Homo sapiens: one gene and its partners. The protein of the gene in region 1 interacts with the protein of each later gene in a pairwise test. Each region holds a gene or a part of one and is shown in the gene's direction. Other genes may lie near its edges. The genes, in order: TRIM55, DCAF6, MYBPC3 and LMCD1.

Region 1 (3,899 bases):
GGAAGGAAGGAAGGAAGGACCAACCTAATATAAGTGAGGCATGTGTAAAGTGCTTTATGTGTATTACTTTATTCAGTCCTTACGACAACCTTGTAAGGTAGGTTCTCATCTCTATTTTACAGAAGAGAAAACTAAGGCTCAGAGAGTTAACTAACTTGTCCAAGTCATACAGCTAATAAGTAGTTTGTGTGGGATTCAAAACTAGGCTAAGCCTCTTTGCACAGAACTTTCTTTGCTGAGCTGGTTGTTGGGTCCTCAGTGGATATAAACAAGACCAAGGAGATGGTGCAATTATCTAAAGATACTCAGGATAACCTCTGCTATTGGATAACCCCCCACTCTGGTACTGGCTTTTCTTTTCTGAAAGATAGCATTGGTCCATATTGTTTGGAGGAAAACTTAATAATTTCCTGGAAACATGGAAGTGTAAGAGAAGCCAACCCAAACTATGTAATCCCAAATATGAAGGCAATAGTGGGTTAACAACTAAAACATTTTAAATGGAAGATAGATGTCAATCTCTAGTAGAGGAAAGCACAAAAATTTATACATATTCCAAAAGCAGTCCCAGGGGCTTGTTCGCTACCAGCAGTTTCCCAAAGGTTCTGCCTTCTGCAGAAAACACATTACCCAACTTGTGTCACCCTTCAACTATGTCAGAACAGCTGCCATGGAAGTTCCCTTTAGATTAGAAACTGCCTTCAAGAAAAAGAGGCCACAAAATGGACCTTGATGGTCTGTTCATCCAGGCGGAATTCGCTATTTGCTCAAATTGAATGGTTAAAAATAAGTCTTTTTATATATGCCCAGGTCATTTGGGCTTTCGGGGTTTTTTGTTGTTGTTGTTTTTTGCATAAGCCATACATGAGACTTAAGGGTTTGTTTTTTGTTTGTTTGTTTATTAGCCAGGGTAAGAGGATTATGGTGGGCAAGGAAGGAGTTGGACGTGTAAAAATAGGTGCAGGATTCTGTCAGGATAATGTTTATTTTACTTCACTTTCAAGGACATTGAGGTATCTGACACATTACCAACAGAATCTAGTAACGTTCTTTTTCAAAAAGCCCAATTTCGCTTGATGTTTCCACTATTCCTTCATAGAAAACTACCTATTTCAGTTTTATTCTACTGTGGCTAATATGATTTCATGGCCCTTTTTAACTTTCTATCAGGAAGCAATGTGGCAGTACAAAGGATTATCCCAAAGCCATAAAGACTTAGGATAATTTTATTGCTCTTGAAACATCATCCCCAAACATATGTTTAGGGTAAAATCTGGTAAAGTGCAGGCCAATAACTCATTTTGCTCTCAAGACTATTTTGAGTGGCAGTAAAACAACATACTTAACCAAAGTTCTGCTTTACTTGTGCCAGGTATTATCCATTCATATCGCAGCTTCATAAAATCATCCAGGGCTTCTGAGCTGAATGCATGTGGCTACCTCACTGCTTTGAAATCAGTGGCATTCTAATCTGGTGGGATAATTTTACCAGTGATGTCATCGGAACATGTTTGCTTATTTATCCATAGTTCTCCTAGGAAGGACGGTGTTTGTCATGGTACCTTGAAATGTAAAGAGTTTGAGCTCATAAAATCAAATTGCATTTCAGCAAGACTTCTTCCTGATTGTCCCTCATTCCATTAAGTTGTGATTTTTAAAGGCAAAACAACATAAGTAAATTTTGCTTATGACATAGATTAATCAATAAATTCAGAATTGCAACCTGTCTATCTCAGGTGCCTACAAAAGATAATTATTTCTTTAGACATGCTTATATTGGATTTGATTTAATATAGATATGGTTATTAGATTTTATTACCTAGAGAAAAAAAAATCCCATCATGATTTGCCCAAAATTAAGCCTGTAGTTTTGTAAAAATTATAGTAAGAAAATATATATGTATATGCATGCTAGAAACTTCTTCAGCAGTGGAGGGATTATATTAATATGTCCCACAATGTCATGTGGCATAGCAGTGCCATTTAAATTTGGAATTTTTTCAAATTCTGCAACCCTTTCTAAACCCAGTTCCTAGAGGTTTCAATGAGACTTTCATCTGAATAAATCATGTACAAGTGGACTTAAAAAAAAAAAAAACTAGAATAGCCTGAACTCCTTTTTCCCAAGAACTTCTCTCCACTGCATGCATTACTGTTCCTTCTTTTTGTATCATGAGTGTGAATTATTTTCATGACTCTTGGCTGTAGCCAAAATAATCTGAGCTTGCTTTCTATTTCTAATAATTATGTGCCATATAATAATATTGTTATTATAATAATAATTGTTATTATTATTATACTTTCTCCTCAATAGAAAAGTGACTGGACCAATCCAAAAAGAACAAACCTCTTTTTTCTCTGATTCCCATTTTCTTCCATTGCAGATTGGATTTGAGGCTCCTCCCCTCCAGGGACAGGCTGCAGCTCCAGCGAGTGGCAGTGGAGCTGATTCTGAGCCAGCTCGCCATATCTTCTCCTTTTCCTGGTTGAACTCCCTAAATGAATGATATTCATTCCAACTGCTGCCCCTCTGTCTGCCTGGCTGAGATGCATGTGGGCAGCAGGAAGCCCAAGTGAAATTAATATTATGCAGATGATGAAAGGGACCTCTGAACAGGATTTCTGCAAAAATAGCCCCAAACTGCAATTCCATATGACTTATCTAACATCTTGGGGGGAAAGAATATTTTGAGAAAATAGTTGCAGAAAGCACTGGAAATAATAAACTTGATCTTATACAAATCTTCTATTGTGTGGAAAATGTTGTGAAGGGTGTGTAGGTGTGGTACATGTGTATGTCACTAACAAGTGGCAAATGGTGAAAAAAGTGGTCACTATGCTTTTGTCTCTCATAGGCACTGACTTTTTGTTATTATATTATGGTAGCTTTCATTTCCTTTACTCTTTAACAGTGCAGGTGGTCAGTGAAAATCAGTGTCAACTCAGAAGTGACTGATTTATCAATACATGGACAAAAAGTAAATCATTGACCAAAGCTATGAAATGTTTCACAAAGTTTTCCTCTTTTGCATAACAGATGTCACTGGATGTACATTCAGAAATGTTCTTTGAATTTGGTGACACTTTCATGGTCCAGAAAGCTGAAGGCCTGGGCATCTCTTGTGACATTTTTCTAATATTAGTTTTAGATTTTCACGTATTAGGCACTTTAGTTGAATCTTCCAGCAAAAGCTGTCTACTTTCTCTTTTATTCACTGTGGCACCAATCTGGTAAATTGTAGAACAATTGCATGTGTTTAAATATATATACAAACATATCACACATTAAATATATATATATTTAAATCATGCTTTGTTAATATTTGTCCCACCATAATGCCTCCTTCAGAACATAAGTGTAACTTTATATGAACTCTTAAATAAATGATGTTTTTAAAAGCTTCGTCTTATAATGATTTATTCAATGTTCTGTATTATCTTATTCATCCATTAGTTAAGTGTATTTCAAGGGTCCCAGGATAAGATGCATCTTCATACAGACAAATTAATTTTGAAGTATTAAACATTTGATTGAATTGTTTAAAGCTATAACTAAACTACCAAAGGCAAATGCACTGTAAAACTAATTAAATGTGCTGTTCAGTTTTAGAAATGAACAAAGGTAGTTCCTGTTCCTAAGAATAAAAGTGATTAGGGTTGACATAAGCAAAAATGTGGAGGATATTTGTGTAATTATTAAAGTCAAAATGTTCTTCATAAGAAAATTTTCCTATGTGACATTTTATAATGACTAAATTTAGTCGTCTTAAGTGGAGATGCTATTAAGTTTCTCTTATTAGATGTAGTCATTGGAAAATAGCTTAGAAAAAATAGTTTTATGGTACCAAAGTAGTAGTTTGACAGAGTGAGTTTTTCTCATAGAAAAAGAATGCAGCATT
Region 2 (7,042 bases), on another chromosome or scaffold:
AACCATATCAATATAAGTGAGTTGCTCCCTTTAGATAATTGCTTTGTATGGGAAAATAAAAAGCCTTAATCTATGTTAATCTCTCTATAGTTAGAGGCCATGTTCAAGTGTATTGTGGAAGTTTCCTCCCCTTATAGAGGAATTAGACATCATATTAGAATGTGTTTGTGAGCTCCTAAGTTAGGTTAAATAATTAGTATTGCCCACATTACCACCTGTTACATACAACTTTATTTTCTGACAGCACAATCAGATAAGTTCACAGCCAAGCCATTGGATTCCAACTCAGGAGAAAGAAATGACCTCAATCTTGATCGCTCTTGTGGGGTTCCAGAAGAATCTGCTTCATCTGAAAAAGCCAAGGAACCAGAAACTTCAGATCAGACTAGCACTGAGAGTGCTACCAATGAAAATAACACCAATCCTGAGCCTCAGTTCCAAACAGAAGCCACTGGGCCTTCAGCTCATGAAGAAACATCCACCAGGGACTCTGCTCTTCAGGACACAGATGACAGTGATGATGACCCAGTCCTGATCCCAGGTGCAAGGTATCGAGCAGGACCTGGTGATAGGTTGGTAAATTTTTAATTAACATGAACTGTAAAAAATGTATTTCACAAGGATTTGTTTGAAGTCATTGAAGGGAATCTCTCCATTTTTGACAGTTGCTTCCTCTAAGAGTGTCTCATTCATATAAACTTAAAGAAACTTTACAGTTTACTGTAAATGATTTTACGTATTATATTCTTTGAGCACTGTGCATTAATAGGGAAATAAAAAGTCTTCATTCTCCATATCTCTAGCACTGAGGCTTGCTTCTGAATTTACAGATCAAGAGAAAAGAATGTTAAGAATGACCCACAGGTTATTTATGAAGTCAAGGTTATACTTAGCTCTCAGATTATCTTGTAGATATCCAGGCCTTTATCAGTGTTGTTTTGGTTTTAATGTTAATTTTTTCTGCTTTTCTATTGACCCTGGATTAAGGTAGTGTGTTAGTAGTTCTGTTTTTGGGAACACTGTTTTTCTTTGATTTCTACTAAACTTAGTGACTGAATTTAGAAAATGAAAAATTATACCAAATAAATACCATAGCAGCAATAAAAAATTGAATTGCCAACATGTTTTTATAGTTTTTCTATATTTTATGTGATCACAAGGATATATTTTCTTTTGTGGGAGTTAAAATAAATTTTTAAAGTATACTGCATTTCATACTCATGGAAAACTATTTCTATTATTAGTGCTATCATATCTTATTGTAAGTTCTGTCCTCTTTCAGAGAACCTAGTTTTAATCTTAAAATCCTAGTTTACAAAGGAGTGAGATTCTATTTGAAATATTTCACATTTTATATGCTCAATATATTGCTGTTTATAAGATACCCTAAAGTATCTGTCAACTGAAAAATATAATGAAAGATTAATTTACCACTCATAGTCAAGAGCATGATGATGGGTTTGAATACTGGTTTCACCACTTACCAGCAGTGTTTTTTCATTCAAATTACTTAATGACTCTTAAAGATTCAGTTTCTTATCTATAAAATAGGGTTATGATTATCTAAAATTATTGTAAGAATTTTAAAAAAATCTATCAGTCAATCATGATGTGACCTGGCTCATGTTAATAGCACTAATTAAATGATAGCTGTATTAAACAATCAAGATAGTCTATGAGGCCACTTTAATTTTTAAAAGAATTACAGTAAGAATGACTCTAGGGATAAAGACTGAAAGAAGACAGGCAAAAATCCTGAAGAGGATAGCTTGCAGCTCAGGGGAACTGCCTTTTCTTAACTATGAAAGGGTATGTTTCTTTCTTTAGTCATATTTGGGAAATGTTTACTTTGCCATGGCACTTTTTTTGTAGATATGAAGCAAGAATTTCCCATGTTTATACTTAGAGATTAATCAAACATCTTCTCTTTACCTGTACACAGTAATCTTGAGCATTCTTAGTATATATTTTAGGCAAGTAAGACTTAGTTCTATTTCTTTCCATACCCAGAGGGAGTTCCTTAGAATGTCATTACCACTTAATTTATGCAGATGAGGTTAGCAAGCTTAGCACAATTTGAAAATCAAACTGATAATTTCCAAAATCAAACTGATAATTTCCAAAACCCAGGGTTGAGAGCTAGATTCTATAATTAAGCTTGTACATTTATGGCCTTCCATTTATATAAATGAGCTAATGTCTTATTTTTCTACATTTAAGTAGTAGAACATGATACGGAGGTCATAATTGAAAATTAAATTTAAGTGCCCAGTTTCTAGTAATGTTTTTAATGGATATTAGACACTTTGAGAAAGTCATAACTATTTAGCAGCTTCTATGCAGGCTAATTATAACACTTAATACCAAGCCTGCTTTATAGCTGAGGAAACTTAGGTGCTAAGCAAAGGGTTTTGTATATTCTAGAGCTAAGGAGTTTTGTTTTTTGAAACACAGTACTATAACATTAATGAGAAAGGAGGATTTGAGGGAGGGTGGGTCCTAGAGAATACAGAAACTGTAATCTTTCTATAGATCTTTATCATCTTCATAATACTTAGATGATTTATATGTTTTAGGGATTCTTTTAGCATTTAGATCTGTCACAAAGTTGGTTCCCAATAGCCTCATTGACCCAAGGAAACCCAGATGCTGAACTAGACTAGCAGAATCTTTTAGAAGAGAGATAATCAGTGACAACAAACAGCCTGGAACTGATCCCACTTCATGCATATACTCTTGAATTCATACTTTCATGGTTAAATCCAGATTTGAAACCACTCTGGGATCACATTTAGTTCCCTGCTTTTTAAAAATTAAATATTATTTAATATTCTGTACACTCATTTGAGTATTTAGCCTATGTTGGTCCTACATGGTATTTTGTTTTGTAAGATATAGTAGTAAACTTCCTGAAGAGTAACAGAAGAACGATAAAATTCTTATCCTTCAAGAAACTTAATTATTTATGAATAAGAGAGAATACCGAAGCCATTTATAGGAACATAGAAAACATTTAATATATGAAAGTAAATACAATTATATATATATGTGTGTGTGTGTATATATATATAAAAGATGTGTATACTGAGGTAATTAGAAAGTGATTAGAGTAACAATTACATTAATTTTCCTTTGAGATTTGCATTATTTTCTAGCTCTTTACCAAAAATTTGTAAATGGTGTAAATATTTCCTCTGACTTTTATCTAAATCGGTTATTATAATTCTTAACTTTTTTGGCACCATCCTGATTTAATCTTGAACAACTGTAAAAAAGTATACTTTTAATATTTCTGCACCTTTCTAAGGGCTCTTCATCATTGACACTCCTGCCAGTTTATCTTACTTCTCAATTTAGCTGACTTTTATTCTAAAGAGAGAAAGTTTAAGAGATTTTGCTTCTTAAGAACATGAAAAGAATCACTTACCAGCTTGTAATTAGTCCTATGATTTTGGAGAGTTTCTGTTTCCCAAGAGACTAAGGGTTGTGAAGCTCTGTTGTAACAATCATACCATTTGGTTCCTAGAGTCCAAGGATACATTGCACACATGGATGAAATGCCCACCTAAAAGGATGTATGTCTTAAAGTTCCCTCCATGCTGCCATTTGCAAAGCCCAGTCAATATTAGTTTAGCTGGGGTAGAGAAGTGGTCCTAAAATTAAATATTATACAAGTGTATACTTAATTTGATCTGTACTTTATATGAAGAACTATATAGTGGACCTCATCAGTTTTTGTTCCAAATTTAATTTTTAAAAGGAAACTTTAAAAGGCTTTATAGCTAAGTCATTTCTGACAAATTTACTGAAAATATCAGAACAGTTCCTTGCAATACAGAGTAATGATTTTTAAAAAAATATTTACATTCTTATAATTTGGTTAAATAAATGACCCAGGTTTTCACTTTTGGGCTGAGATCAAGCATGAGAAGGAAATGTCTTAGAAAATGAAGACCTTAACAACTAACATAGATATTTTTAAATGGAATGCTCTTCTCATTAACTACAGCAAGTCTATGTAAATGTAACTGGGAGTCTATAGCAGAGCAGCAGACTTACTCCTAAAGAGCCATATAGTAAATATTTTGGCTTTGTTGGCCAGGAGACAAAATGGAGACCATTATGGTAGGTACTTATATGACCATTTAAAATATTAACATTTAAAAATGTAAAAACTATTCTTAGCCTAAGGTTCATTTCAAAAATCGGCATTTGGCGGAGATCTAGCCCAAGAGCCATAGCTTGCAAATACCTGCTCTATAGTAATCAGTGTTATAGAGAGAAATCAAACTATAGTCTGTGGTAAAATGCCTCTACTGGCAAAAATCCAGACTTTGAAACAATGAAATAATATGAATCTCCACATATTTGGGTTCCCTTTAACTTTGCGTAAGGCAAGAACATGGAACAGTAAATGGGAAATAAATTGAAAAAAGACAGAAAGAAATGTTTGTTCTCTAATCATGGTGTTTAAAAAAATAAAATTAGTCCTAATGTCAAAAATAAGTCTGACTTAGGAAAAAAGCAAAACAAAGCAAAAAAATAGTATGTGTATCTTTTAGTGATTTTATATACTGTATTTATTTCATTTTGTTTTATTTTTTTGAGACAGGGTCTTGCCCTGTTGCCCAGGCTGGAGTGCAGTGGTATGATCATAGCTCACTGCAACCTCATACTCCTGGGCTCAAGCGATCTTCCTCCCTCAGTCTCCCAAGTAGCTGGGATTACAGGTGCATGTTGCTGCACTCTGCTAATTTGTTGTTGTTGTTGTTGTTGTTTTTTTTTTTTTTTTTTTTTAGAAGAGACAGTCTCACTATGTTGACCAGGCTGGTCTTGAACTCCTGGCCTCAAGCCTCAGCCTCCCAAAGTGCTGGGGGACTATAGGCGTGAGCCACCGCGCCTGGCCATATACTGGGTTAAGAAACGTAAATATATGCCCTTGGAATGAAAAGAGTGTGGTTGAGATCTCTGTTTAGATAATCTGCATATAATTTTTTTTTTTTTTTTTTTTTTTTTTGGAGACGGAGTCTCGCTCCCTCACCCAGGCTGGAGTGCAGTGGGGCAATCTTGGCTCACTGCAAGCTCTGCCTCCCAGGTTCACGCCATTCTCCTGCCTCAGCCTCCCAAGTAGCTGGGACTACAGGCGCCTGCCACCACGCCCAGCTAATTTTTTGTATTTTTAGTAGATACGGGGTTTCACCGTGTTAGCCAGGATGATCTCGATCTCCTGACCTCGTGATCCGCCTGCCTCAGCCTCCCAAAGTGCTGGGATTACCGGCATGAGCCACCGCACCCAGGCTGTATAATTTTTTTTTTTTTTTACAATGCCAAATCTGTTGTAAGTGATTTGACGGCCTGATTGGTAGCTCTTACTGTTTCTAAACTCAAGAGAAAACCTAAATTACTCTCTGAAAAAAAAAAACAAGCATCTAAGAAAGCTTCCTGAATAAGTCCTCACATAGTCTTGAATAGTTTTTAATTATAGCCTCAGTTAGGATGATCTAACAATTTTTTCCCTAAAGAGTGATTTATCCTATATTGCCCTTTAATAACTTTTAAAGTGTTATTTTCATAGAAATTTGGTTCCATATACCTACTCTGGACCATGGAGCATAGCCCTCACTTTTAAAGCCAAAATTCCTTGTACTGTAAATTTGGCAGCATTTATTCAGTCATCATTGTAACCATGATTTCCTTATTTCTCATTATTGCAGTTTACTCTTTATTAAAGAAAATTGCAGAGAGAAAAGATGTACTCAAAGAGAAAGAACTGGACTCCTAGGGAGTTAAAAGCCCTGTTATTCTTTGCTCATTTGTTATATAGTCTTGTGGTTAGGCCAAGTGAATTAGCTTAGGGCTTAATTATTTATTTTCCAAAGAGCTCCTCAGCTTTGAGGAGCATGTACGTGTTCCAGAGGATGGTATTCATTATAAGCCAGTGCAGTTTCCCATACTGTGACAGGATTGGGTTCTGATTTATTTAAAAGATAAAAGGGATTAAGTGCAATGTCTTCCTTCTATTCTAGCTTCAATGAGTGTTTCTGTTTCCTTAATTTCTTCATATACATTTAGTTGACTGACATATTCCTTGCTTAATGCCCGAAGTCACAAAGGGAAACAAAAGTTTTTTTTTAAATTGAGATGATTGATGATAAAAAGGGTGTCCTTAATGCTTTAAATATTTGGTTCTTTGAAGTCTTTGTAAGTGATTTCAGTTATTGTGTTCCCTTCACTAGATTTAATATCAGAGGAACAACAATAGGTGATAGAATAATGAGGTAATTCAGTATGTTCCTTCATAATTTTTTTTTTATGATGGATTTGCCAGGTCTTCTTTTGCCACAGCTAACCACCTTTCCTATTAACAGTTAATACTCCCTTTGGACTTACTGAATTCTAAGTGCTAAGCATTGTAAAGCAGGTCGCTTTCCACAAACTATATTTAGCTGCATGCACTGCATGGGGATAGAATGAAAAGAAATTTCCTGTGTGCAGACTGATGTTCACTTCAAATATGTCATATGGCAAAGTAACTATAATCTGAAATGATGTACTTTAAGTATCAGTTACTCTTTTTGGATATTTTGTTGAAGAATGCAATTTATGTTTTTTAAATTTGATTGGGATAACAATTACCAACTTTTTGTTATTCGTATATGCTCCTTTTCCTTGAGCTCAATAACTAAAAATGTACTTGAATCTAAATCTGTGTATAGGTTTCTGATTTTTGCAAGAAAGTTGTTTCCTTATAAATAGTTTAGAAATAGTGTCACATATCAAGATGATATATAAGCCTCAAGCACTTCTCTATTTGGGACATATTTTTGAGTAGATCTTTAAAGTGAACCTCAATGACATCAGTCACCTACTGAAAACCTGTTTTGCTGACAAAATCAACCTTGTACTTAACTCTAGAGGCATATATCTGTTATTTACCATCAGTTTCTAAAACAGTTGAACATGAAACATATAGCAACAATCAGAAATGTAAAGTTTGTAGAGTTCCTAATGAAAAATACAGAAGTCATGAAATAAGCCAAAA
Region 3 (4,839 bases), on another chromosome or scaffold:
AATGCAGAGTAAAGCTGACTGTAACACTTCTTTGAGCAGTGCGAAATCAGCAACTACATTTTAAAAACATATTTAAGGCCAGGCGCGATGGCTTACGCCTGTAATCCCAGCACTTTGGGAGGCCAAGGTGGGCGGATCACCTGAGGTCGGGAGTTCGAGACCAGTCTGACCAACGTGGAGAAACCCCGTCTCTACTAAAAATACAAAATTAGCCGGGTGTGGTGGTGGGCACCTGTGATCCCAGCTACGCGGGAGGCTGAGGCAGGAGAATCACTTGAACTCGGGAGGCAGAAGTTGCGGTGAGCCAAGATCATGCCATTGCACTCCAGCCTGGGAGACAAGAGCGAAACTCCATCTCAAAAATAAATAAACAAATAAAAATTTAAAAAAACATATTTAAATCCTGGAGATTCCTATCAGAGGAGTGGGCAGTGGGAGTGGGGTGTCAGTGGTGACACAGCCTGTGGCCTTGCCTCCCCCTCCCCACCCCCAGGCTCAGAGTGGGTGGCTGCCCTGCAGGGGCTGACAGAGCACACATCGATACTGGTGAAGGACCTGCCCACGGGGGCCCGGCTGCTTTTCCGAGTGCGGGCACACAATATGGCAGGGCCTGGAGCCCCTGTTACCACCACGGAGCCGGTGACAGTGCAGGAGATCCTGCGTGAGTGCCCCTTTGTGCAGTCACAAGACCCGCCATTGACACCCCAGGCCCTTGGTGTCCAGTGGAGGTGGGGACAGTTGGGGAGGCCCAGAATGCTCTGCCCAGAACGCTGGGCAGAGACAGGAGGGGTTGGAGCCATCGTCCATGCGCTAGGCCTAGGGAAAAAGTGCAGAGAGGGTGGCCAGGCACAGTGGCTCAAGCCTGTAATCCCAGCACTTTAGGAGGCCAAGGCAGGCAGATCACTTGAGGTCAGGAGTTTGAGACCAGCCTGGCCAACATAGTGAAACCCTGTCTCTACTAAAAATACAAAAACTAGCCAGGTGTGGTGGCGCGTGCCTGTAGTCCCTCAACTACTTGGGAGGCTGAGGCAGAAGAATCGCTTGGACCCGGGAGGTGGCAGTTGCAATGAGCTGAGATCACACTATTGCACTCCAGTCTGGGTGACAGAGTGAGACAACGTCTCAAAAAAAAAAAAAGTGCAGAAAGGGCTCTCTTGGTGTATGTCAGTCCCTTAGTTCTGGAACAGGGAAAGTAAAAGCCACAGTACCCAAGCTCTCTTCCAGGAGTGTCTCAGCTCCAACAGGTAAATATTGTCTATGTAGTCAGATTGGTCCCTCTGGGATCCACTTCCCATTCCTTTGTTCCTTGTCCCAACAAAGGGTCCATCTTTTGTAAGGATTGGTTCTCAAAGCTGGAACGAGGCAGCAAACTCAGGTGGTAACAACACAGGGCATAGGGTGTCAAAGCCCAGGCTTACACCCTGGTCTATGACTTACTAGCTGTGTGACTTCAGTCAAGTTGCTTACCCTCTCTGATCCCTGCCTTTTGAAGTGGTGAGGCTCGGGGAAGCCAGCTGGGCTTGGGCAGCCTGGAGTTGCTGTGTTAGCAGGAGCTAAAGGAGGCGCAGGGCCCAGCAGGCAGCTTTTTTCTTAGCTGCAGCTCTCTGGGCCTTGTCTCAAGGGAGGTTGGAGCTGTGGAGCCCCTCAGAGCTGTGGCGGGCCCTCACTTAGCTACCCACTCTATACCCACAGAACGGCCACGGCTTCAGCTGCCCAGGCACCTGCGCCAGACCATTCAGAAGAAGGTCGGGGAGCCTGTGAACCTTCTCATCCCTTTCCAGGTGGGACTGGCCCCCTTCCCTGTCCCCCAGGGGAGAGAGGCTATAGTGTGTTGTTCCCATCCAGTGGACTGATGTCTCAGGGCTGGCCTGATCTGAGGTACCAGAGGCTGGGGTGGCGGCCGGCCCTTGGAGTGATCCAGGTTCAGGGTTAAGCTTTTCCTCCCCTCAGGGCAAGCCCCGGCCTCAGGTGACCTGGACCAAAGAGGGGCAGCCCCTGGCAGGCGAGGAGGTGAGCATCCGCAACAGCCCCACAGACACCATCCTGTTCATCCGGGCCGCTCGCCGCGTGCATTCAGGCACTTACCAGGTGACGGTGCGCATTGAGAACATGGAGGACAAGGCCACGCTGGTGCTGCAGGTTGTTGGTGCGTGGCCAAGGCCTCCTTGAGCCCCCTTGTTTCCCTTCCCTGGGCTGGGCTGCTGGGGCCAAGGGTGGGGCCAGGGGACCCAACCCACAGCTCACATTTTCCAGTCCACTGCCCCAGCAGGCCTGGCCCTGGTTGGCAGGGGTGGGGTGGTCCCTGGAGCCAGTGACCCCCTGCTCACTGTCAGGAGGCGTGGTGACCCAACTGGGTCTGTCTCCCGCAGACAAGCCAAGTCCTCCCCAGGATCTCCGGGTGACTGACGCCTGGGGTCTTAATGTGGCTCTGGAGTGGAAGCCACCCCAGGATGTCGGCAACACGGAGCTCTGGGGGTACACAGTGCAGAAAGCCGACAAGAAGACCATGGTGAGCCCAGGGTCTGGGGTCCCCACGTGCACCCTGCCTAGGCCCGGCAGACCCAGGCCGCAGCTACCCTTCACTGTCCTCACCGTGGACCCCTCACCCTCCCTCTGCTGATCTGAATCCCTCCATAGTAGGGGTGGAGATGCCAAGGGCACCCAGGAGAGGCTCTCGGCATCAGGAAGGGCCTGGCCCAGAGATGCCTCCCCTCCCTCCCTGCCCCCAGGAGTGGTTCACCGTCTTGGAGCATTACCGCCGCACCCACTGCGTGGTGCCAGAGCTCATCATTGGCAATGGCTACTACTTCCGCGTCTTCAGCCAGAATATGGTTGGCTTTAGTGACAGAGCGGCCACCACCAAGGAGCCCGTCTTTATCCCCAGACCAGGTGCTGTACCCTCATTCTTCCAACCAGGGGCTGGGGCAGGGAGGCTGTGGGAACAGGGAGAGGGGCCTAGCTTTGTGTGGCCCTCTCGGTACCAAGTCCTGTCACCAACAGGCATCACCTATGAGCCACCCAACTATAAGGCCCTGGACTTCTCCGAGGCCCCAAGCTTCACCCAGCCCCTGGTGAACCGCTCGGTCATCGCGGGCTACACTGCTATGCTCTGCTGTGCTGTCCGGGGTAGCCCCAAGGTAGGGAACTTTAGGCGCTGGTCCAGGCCGACCAGGAGGCAGGGCTCACAGGCCCCGACGTTGAGCAGTCCTCTCCCCAGCCTGTCTCCCCTGCTTTCTCTCCACCTTGGGGTGTATGGACCGGGTTCCTCCCCCTGGGCAGGGCCATGGTACTCACTCTTGGTTCCATGTTTGTTTCCAGCCTTGGGCATAGTCAGGGACTCTCGTGGGACCCCCCGAGTAGAAACACAGATGTGTCTCCCTGGGTCCCTGCCAGGTCCCCTCTCAGCCTGGATGGCTTCCCTCCCTCTCTTTACCTTATTTATAGCCCAAGATTTCCTGGTTCAAGAATGGCCTGGACCTGGGAGAAGACGCCCGCTTCCGCATGTTCAGCAAGCAGGGAGTGTTGACTCTGGAGATTAGAAAGCCCTGCCCCTTTGACGGGGGCATCTATGTCTGCAGGGCCACCAACTTACAGGGCGAGGCACGGTGTGAGTGCCGCCTGGAGGTGCGAGGTGAGGAGCCCTCGGGGCCAGGGCCTGGGAGATGGGAAGAGCGGGCGGCAGTGGGGACCCTGGGCTTTGCTCCGTTGTCCTCGGCCAAGCACCTGCCCTGGCTGCAAGGGCACGGACCCTGCCACGCCCAGATGGGCAATAGCTTCCAGAAGGCTGGGAGGACACAGTGACATGGCCTCCTCTTCTGCAGTGCCTCAGTGACCAGGCTGGCTCCTGGGGATGGCCAGGTATGTACCACCCGACACCCAGGGCACAAGTCAGTGGCTGAGCCCTGGCCCTTGGTCCTGGGGCAGCCATCAGTAAATGGGAGGCTGTAGGGGCCCTCCATTCACTCGTAAGATAACCTGTGTTGCAGGTACAACCGGATGCCAGCCCCGTGCCAGGAGCCTGGAGGGAAGTTGGGGAAACCCCTCCCTACTGTTGGATGTATGTGTGACAAGTGTGTCTCCTGTGCTGCGATGGGGGATCAGCAGGGCAGTTGTCGGGCAGTCCTGAGTGGGTGTTGCACAGACTGGTCCACAGGGCTCCTGAAGGAAGCCCCTGGATCTTTGGGGTAAAAGGAGGGTGGCCTCAAGAAACAATGTCTGGGGACAGGCCTTTCTGGCCTGCTATGTCTTCCCAATGTTTATTGGGCAATAAAAGATAAGTGCAGTCACAGAGAACTCACTCTTCTCAATTTCGGTGTGCCTGTTTTCATAAAAATGCACAGGGGATGGCCAGGTGCGGTGGCTCATGCCTGTTATCCCAGCACTTTGGGAGGCGGAGGCGGGCCGATCACCTGAGGTCAGGAGATCAAGACCAGCCTGGCCAACATGGTGAAACCCCGTCTCTACTAAAAATACAAAAATTAGCTGGGCAAGGTGGCGCGCCTATAATCCCAGCTATTTGGAAGGCTGAGGCAGGAGAATCACCTGAACCCAGGAGGTAGAGTTTGAGGTGGGCCGAGATCATGCCACTGCACTTCAGCCTGGGTGATGGAGTGAGACCATGTCTCAAAAAAAAAAAAAGAAAAAAGCCCAGGGACATTGATCTTCACAGCAAAGTGAGAGCAGATACTGTTTTTTGTTTTGTTTTCCCGATGATTAAACCAGGCCCAGAGTGGTTTCTGAGTTCATAAAACATTAACGCTAGAAGGAACCTGTCTTCCCCTACAGCATTCACTCTTCAGATGATGAAACTGAGCTGTGACAGCGGAAAGTGCATTTAAC
Region 4 (7,271 bases), on another chromosome or scaffold:
TGTGTTCCAGTGGGAAAGCACTGATGTCTAACCTCCTGCCATTTCCAGGAGAGAACATAAACTCCTTAGCATGGTTTATGGGGCCCACATGAGCCAGCTCCTGCATGCCTCACCTGAGGCTCCTCATACCATTCTCCCTGACCCACTACACTGACCTCATGATCCCTCAGACATGCCACACTCGCACTCATCTCAGGGTCTCTGCTCTCATGACCCCATCCTCCTGGAATGTTCTCTCCATGGGGACTGTACTCACAGCTGACTCATTCTCCTTCACTGGGGCTTAGTTCACACACCACCTGCTCAGCCAGACCTTCCTGGACCCCCTAATCTAAAATGACTGTGTCCAATGAATTTCTCCATTTATTTCCTCCTAGGCACTCACTGCCATCCTTAATTACCTTATCTAAATATCTATCCACTTGTTTAATGCCTGTCTCCCCTACACACATTAGAATAGAAGCTATATGAGGGGAGGGACATTTCCTGTCTTATTCACTGTTGCATCCTCAGCTCAGGGCCTAATCCATAGTATTTCCCAATTCAATATTTGTTTCTTTAATTAATTTGTTCATGAATGGTAAAAAGAATACGAGACTCAGAGTCAAAAATCCCAGTTAGGACAAGCCCAGTGATAATGATGACAACAACAGCAGCATCTTAATCCAAGTGCTTCCTGTTTTGCTTATAATCAACCATCTGCAATCATTATGGAAGCAGTGCAGTATAGGTGAAAGGGTGCAATCTGAAGTTAAAAACTCTGAATTTAAATTTCAGCTCTGCCACTTGCCAGCTGTATGACCTTTGATACAGCCCTGGGACTGTTTGGGATTTCTGTTTTCTCTGAGACTAGTTGTCTTGGAGTTCAAGTAAGATTAGGGCTCTGTCAACCAGGGAGCCCCAGAAGTAGTTATTAGACCAATATGTTCTCCAAGGAGAAGAACTCTTTTATTTACCTTGATGTTTCCAGCACCTATCAGAGGGCTTGGCTTATGGCAAGTATCCCAAAACTCCTTGATAGATGAATGAATGCTTCTAATAATCCCGTGTCAAAAAGCGATGATCCTTGGAGAAATCAGATCTCTACTCTTTCAACTAGGAAAAGATATCCAATTTTCTTCCAAAGAGAAGTGAAGAGGACCTCAGAGCTGGAGTGAGGCTCAGGTGCAATAACTACATTTCCCTCATTCTCCTGAAAAGTCCCAAGTTGTAATGGTCTGTCCAGGTGTCCGGTTAAGTCTCTGAATATAGGTCCCCTGGAACAAGAGGGTCAAGTGTAAGGTTTAAAGTGTCAAAGTCAGAATCCTCAGCTGAGGAGACAGCAACTTCTAGCAGATAGCAGGGATCCCCTCTCTGCCTACAGCAGGTCTTTTTCCAGAAAGAAGGGAATGAGCCACCCCAAGCAACAGCTCCTGACACTCGTGTTCTGAGAAATTCTGAGAAACAGCTGCAATATCTGCCTCCTTAATTGTACCTGGAGCCAAGGGTAAAAATAAGGAGGGGGAGAGACTCTTGTGGTTGGAGCTATTAATAAATAGTGTTAACTTAATAAAATTAGTATTATTTCATGGAACAATGATTTTTCAAGATGGGGCAAGGAGGGTGGCTGGGAAGGGAGTGGGAAATGACTTCACTGGGCAGGCTTTTGCCTCGTTTGAAAGGGATAAAGCTTGCCTTTGTTATATTCCTGGCTTCTGTTCCCACAGCTCTAAAATATAAAGGCTTCTGGCATGACATCCTGATTTAGCACTATTGTTCCTAGGATTTGCTACTGAAAGGACTATTCATGTGGAAACCTCCTCTCCCAGGCCAGGCTTCTGTTGGCCACTGTTTATTTACATACTGGTTTAACATGCAGCCTACCTTGGAAGTTTGGACAAACCAGGCCAGGTGTGCCATTGCACCATCTCTCCCTATTCTTACTTTGCCTGCTTACTGCATGGAGGTAGAGAGTAGAAGAAGGTTACCAGAGGTTGGGAAATGGTGGGCTGGGGTGTGAGGGGATGAACAGAGGTTGGTTAATGCGAACAAACACTGTCTGATAGCAAGAAAAAGTCTAGCATTCAACAGCACAGTAGGGTGACTATAGTCAACAACAGTGAATTGTATACTTCAAAATAGCTAAAAGAGGCTAGGTGCGGTGGCTCACTCCTGTAATTCCAGCACTTTGGGATGCCAAGGTAGGAGGATCACTTGAGGTCAGGAGTTCAAGACCAGCCTGGCCAATATGGTGAAACTCTGTCTCTACTAAAAATACAAAAATGAGCCAGGTATGGTGGCTCATGCCTGTAGTCCCAGCTTCTTGGGAAGCCGAGGTGGGAGACTCACTTGAACCTGGGAGGCAGAGGTCACAGTGAGCCGAGATCGCGCCACTGCATTCCAGCCTGGGCAACAGCGCGAGACTCTGTCTCAAAAAAAAAAAAAAAAAAAAAAGAAAAGCTAAAAGTGATTTGACATGTTCCCAGTACAAAGAAATTATAAATGTTCAAGGTGATGGAAATCCTAAACACCCTGATTTGATCATTACACATTGTAAGCATATATCAAAATACCACATGTACAATCATGATGTATCAATAAAAAAAATAAAAGCCAGAACCCAACCTCTATTCATTTGCCAAATGTGTACTGTGCCTATACCACATGCTAGGTGTTTGAGGACATAGCTGGGAGCAAACAAGGCAAAAATCAATTATAGCAGAAATCTGTGAAAAAAGAAATAGGTCATCCCTCATCTTGGAAAAGATAAGCCACAAAAAGCCCTTTCCAGGAATATGTAATAAAAAGTCACAATTCAGGATCCCTGGCTGAGATTTGGGATGACTGGAGATGATGATAAGAACTAAATTGGAGGAGGCTTTCAAGAGGAAAAAGCCTCCAGCAAGAGACAGCCCCACAGTGGGAACTGCAGCCTCCCCTTCTCACCAAATCCCTCCCGAATGGTGTACTTCGGGACCACTCTTCAGTCTCTGTGCAACCGAGTTTTATTTTAGCCCACGGGACCCTGGTTTTTCTGGCAGGGGGCACTGCAAAGACGGGTTACAGGCCGAACACCTCACAACAGAGACAGCAGTATTCTCTCTAGGATAAAAAGGGCTTGTGTTTAATCCTCTGTCAGGGCAGGGGGGAAATGCCTCTGGAATCCAAGTCTGTGGAACCGGCTCAGCAGAGAGATGTGGCTTTATAGGCAAACAACGTGGCATAGAGAGAGGAACCTGGCCAATTCTGTCTTATAAGAGTAGTTATGTTATGCGTTGCAAGGACTCCACATTCCATGGATTTGTGAACTCAGATGGAATCTTGTTTGTCCAGGCCTGCATGACCCCATTTATCTAAAAATTACTAACTTCCTAGTTTATAGTTTACAATCCTGTGCCCGCCGCCTCCCTCCCCCCCCCCGCCACGCCCCCATGAGCTTTCTCTCTATTACTCTCAGTCTCTCAGGTTAAAGCCTTGCTCAGTAATTCAGCTGTGGACCAGTTATTCTGATTATTTCCTCATCTATCGTCTTACAGTCATAATAATAATAATATCTGAGATAATATGAGCATACAACAAGACAGTATGTCCACAGGAGCATCTCTAAGATCAGGACAGTGATTTCTTGCTCATGGAATAAGAAGGATTTATGTTAAAGCAAGTTATAAGAAAGCAGTTTAATACTTTACGAACGTTAAGTTTAAAAAAATCATAACTCGCTGGAATCTTTTCTCCTCTCTGGATATTGGAGAACTCGCCCAGGTTTGGGAAACGTTAGCCAGCTCCTGCAAAACACCTCCTCCCTCAGCCCTCCCCGCGCCCCCTACGACCAGGCAGAAAGGGTGGGAAGGGGAGCACAGCTCAGCATTTATTTCTGGATCCAGCTCACTAAAAATACCTCGGCTCTCCTGTTTGATCACTCTCCCTTTTGACCTGAATGGATCGCGGGAGCCGCGCCGCCCGCCCCACCTTCGGCCCGTTGCCCTTTAAAGGAAAAGGGCGTGGGGACGGATTCCTGCCGCTCGAGGGATAGAAGGGAGCTGGGTAGTCAGGGGCCGCGGCCATGCTGACGTCAGGGCAGCCGGCGCTCAGCTCCGCTCGCTGCCACAGTGCAGAGACCTCCCTGAGGGAGGGGGACAGCCTCGCGCTGGGATTGGCTGGCCTCGCGCGAGCGCCGGCGCGGAGTGGCTGGCGAGGTTTTAGAGGGAGTCCCGCTCTCCAATTAAAGCGGCCCAGCTGCGCCTGGCTGCGCACAGAGCTCCCTCCCAGGCCCGCGAACTTGGCCATTCAGCCGCCGCTGTCCCCGCTGCGCGCCCTCGCGCCTCTGCCTGAGAAGCCAGGCGCTGTTCCCCCACCCCAGAAGAGGATGGCAAAGGTGGCTAAGGACCTCAACCCAGGAGTTAAAAAGGTGAGTGGAAAGCTGTTTGTATTTACCCAGATTCTTACTTTTTCTTGTTCCCCTTCCCATCTGTTCGCGGAAACTTCCCAAAAGGTAATGAGAAGGGAACTCTTTAAATTCCAAAACTGCATGGAAAACAAATAGTTGGGAATACATGTTTGAGCTAACAGGCACACACACCCCAAACCCAATGTTGTGTAAAATATTTGCAAAGGGTCTTATGTCTTTGGTGATGCTAGTTAAAGTTTAATTAAGGTTTTACATATATATACAATATATATAAAATGTATATAAAATATATATATAAAATATATATAATATATATTATATATAATATATAAAATATATATTATATATAATATATATTATATATAAAATATATAATATATATTATATAAAATATATATAATATATATTATATATAAAATATATATAATATATAATATATATATATGAAATCTTATGGTCTGTAAAGGAAAAACCCCTAGCTTCCTCACTCCCTGTCCTCAGGTGGCTGAAGTAAGGGTTGAGAGCATGTAATATTTACTCACAGTCTCCCTTTTGCTATTATCCCAGTGTTTTGTGTGTTTCCCCCAATACACACACACACACACACACACACACACACACACACACGCACGCAGTTTCTTTAGTTGGTGATGTTGGCAGTGGCAGCAGTTCCAGCATAAGGGAACTGATTTCTGTCCCCAGGGTCTGCACGTTTCCCTTACAAGAAGGGCTGGCCCGGAGCCCAGAAGGTCATGGGTAAACTCCTGCACAGGAGCCTGCGGCTGTGCCTATAGCTCCAATACCACTTGTTGCCTACCTGAATGCAGCTGGGAGAAGGCACAGGCTGGAGACTTAGAGAACATGTGAACGGGAAGGGAACAGAGAGACAACCTAGGCTTTACAGATCGGGAAACTGAGGCCCGGGGTCACAGAGAGTTGGTTCTAACAGGCAGCTGACTGTAAGGCAAGCCCTAGGCATCCAGACTCAGTCCCTGCCACTTTTTAACTGCACATGATTCACCAGGTCACTTTTCTGAGCCTCAGTTTCCTTGTCTCTGATGTGGGGAGGATAGGCCTAACCTCCCTCATGGCAGTGGTAGCAGGGATACTGACACTGTGAGTTAATTTCCCAAAGCAGTCATTGTTAAACTCTGATTTCACAGGGTTTAGTCTTGAAGGGCAAAGTCTTCCTTAAATATCTGCCATTAACCTGCAGGGTAGAATGAGAGGGGGAAAAACAAAAGACGTGAGAATCAAACTAAAGACACAAACAGCCACTCAGAGGCACAGCATGCACTGTCTAATTTGTAGCTGTGCTCTTCTGTAGACCACCTGCCCAGACCCTGTCACAGAGTCCAGTGGATCCTTCTAAATGTGGGTACCAAGTCACATTGAATCTGGGCATTTGTCTGGAATGTATCATGCCTCACTGCATTTGCCAAGCTATTTGCAGAATCAAGTCATTTCCCCTCCTACAGAAATTACCATAACATTTTAGACTCTTAGAAGATACCTATTAATTGCTACCTAGTAGTGAGTTATGCATGCAATGCTCTTATTTCTCTATACATTTTTCTGGACTCCTTGAGGGCAAACCTGTCTTGTTCATCCCTGTTTGAACATAGCACACCATGCCACACAGCAGGACTCAAAAACCTGTGGGTGACTCATGAGAATATCTGTCCAGCTAAGACCACACTGTTTGCATAGGCTTCATTTTATGCATTATTTTTTAACTTGTAGCATTGATATTTGTGTGTCTGAACTGCCTCCCCAAGTTCAGACACAGAATAGTTCACGGCTAAAGGTGGCAGAGTTCCATTGTCCTCTGGAAAGTGAAATGATTCTGAGTATTTTTAATATAAGCTGGTTGATAGTTACTGTATGAGGTGAGATGAGGTATATGGAGACTCCTCCTCCTCACCACAGTCCTGTGTTGCCACTTGGAGGAAGCCTTGTTTTTATTTTCCTTTGCATAGGGGAGTGTGATTATCCTGATTAGAGGTGGAACATGTTCTCCTTCTTGTCACCCCCTAGTGCCAACTTCCTTGGCCTGCAAAGGGTTTGTTTTCCATTTAGATCCAATTACAGGCTTAGAGAAAGAATGTGGTGGGTAGAGATGAAAGGGCAGATTTTTTTTATCTCTTGGGACTGCGACAATCAGGAGGAAGATCACCATTTTGTAGGTTAACCAATGCCTTCAACTCAAAATGTGGAGGGGAGGGAGGAGAGCCGAGAAGCTCCCCTTGCTGAACTGAATGTCACAGAAGTGATTAAGTACTACGTGATATCAGCAACACGCTGAAAAGCTTTTACTGCATATTTATTTTTTAAATCTGCAACAGTATGTGGGGGAGGTTTATAACATTTGGCTTCAGGATGCATAATCGCACTTAGACATTTTGAAACAATTTCATAGACTCTTAGAGCTACAAGGGGCCTATTTACAAAATGAGAAATGGTTTAAAATGGCATACAGGCTGTTTCCGCTTCCCTACCCCCGAGGGGGCTGGGGCGGGAATCCCCACCAACTGGAAAGTCATAAAAAGATCTTCAGCAAAGAACATAAAATCTAAAAACTGGAGTAGACTTAAAGGTCATCTAACCAACCCCAGACAGGCTGGGGAAAGAGACTCACTGGGGGCCACATACATACATCGTGGCAGAGCTTACAAGTTCCCTAACTTCTCTCTTTCTTTCTAAGTAAAATGCTTCCACCGGCTGCTCTTGAACCATCTTTTTTTTTCTATTAGGAAAGAGAAGGTTTCCTAGCACAGACAGTTCCCTGAGAATGGTGAAATCGCCAACATTTCTTGGTAACAAAGGGCCTTGAAGGCCAAATGCCATTTTTCTGGGTGAAACCAATCTCGACTATGGATTTGTT

What was found.
Region 2: the proteins of TRIM55 (region 1) and DCAF6 interact in a two-hybrid assay, tested with the Homo sapiens proteins (one study listed by BioGRID).
Region 3: the proteins of TRIM55 (region 1) and MYBPC3 interact in a two-hybrid assay, tested with the Homo sapiens proteins (one study listed by BioGRID).
Region 4: the proteins of TRIM55 (region 1) and LMCD1 interact in a two-hybrid assay, tested with the Homo sapiens proteins (one study listed by BioGRID).

Annotation. Positions count from the first base shown.
Region 1 is NC_000008.11:66,172,087-66,175,985, forward strand, and holds the end of TRIM55 (tripartite motif-containing protein 55), read left to right. Parts: intron 1-2,384; coding exon 2,385-2,507; 3' UTR 2,508-3,399; downstream 3,400-3,899. UniProt on the Homo sapiens protein: E3 ubiquitin ligase that plays an important role in regulating cardiac development and contractility, muscle growth, metabolism, and fiber-type differentiation.
Region 2 is NC_000001.11:168,044,656-168,051,697, forward strand, and holds part of DCAF6 (DDB1- and CUL4-associated factor 6), read left to right. Parts: coding exon 1-16; intron 17-244; coding exon 245-572; intron 573-6,236; coding exon 6,237-6,278; intron 6,279-7,042. UniProt on the Homo sapiens protein: Ligand-dependent coactivator of nuclear receptors. Enhance transcriptional activity of the nuclear receptors NR3C1 and AR. May function as a substrate receptor for CUL4-DDB1 E3 ubiquitin-protein ligase complex.
Region 3 is NC_000011.10:47,330,864-47,335,702, reverse strand, and holds the end of MYBPC3 (myosin-binding protein C, cardiac-type), read left to right. Parts: intron 1-493; coding exon 494-661; intron 662-1,692; coding exon 1,693-1,781; intron 1,782-1,950; coding exon 1,951-2,146; intron 2,147-2,369; coding exon 2,370-2,509; intron 2,510-2,729; coding exon 2,730-2,889; intron 2,890-3,000; coding exon 3,001-3,137; intron 3,138-3,444; coding exon 3,445-3,631; intron 3,632-3,821; coding exon 3,822-3,832; 3' UTR 3,833-3,858; intron 3,859-3,986; 3' UTR 3,987-4,297; downstream 4,298-4,839. UniProt on the Homo sapiens protein: Thick filament-associated protein located in the crossbridge region of vertebrate striated muscle a bands. In vitro it binds MHC, F-actin and native thin filaments, and modifies the activity of actin-activated myosin ATPase.
Region 4 is NC_000003.12:8,497,594-8,504,864, forward strand, and holds the start of LMCD1 (LIM and cysteine-rich domains protein 1), read left to right. Parts: upstream 1-4,229; 5' UTR 4,230-4,345; coding exon 4,346-4,387; intron 4,388-7,271. UniProt on the Homo sapiens protein: Transcriptional cofactor that restricts GATA6 function by inhibiting DNA-binding, resulting in repression of GATA6 transcriptional activation of downstream target genes. Represses GATA6-mediated trans activation of lung- and cardiac tissue-specific promoters.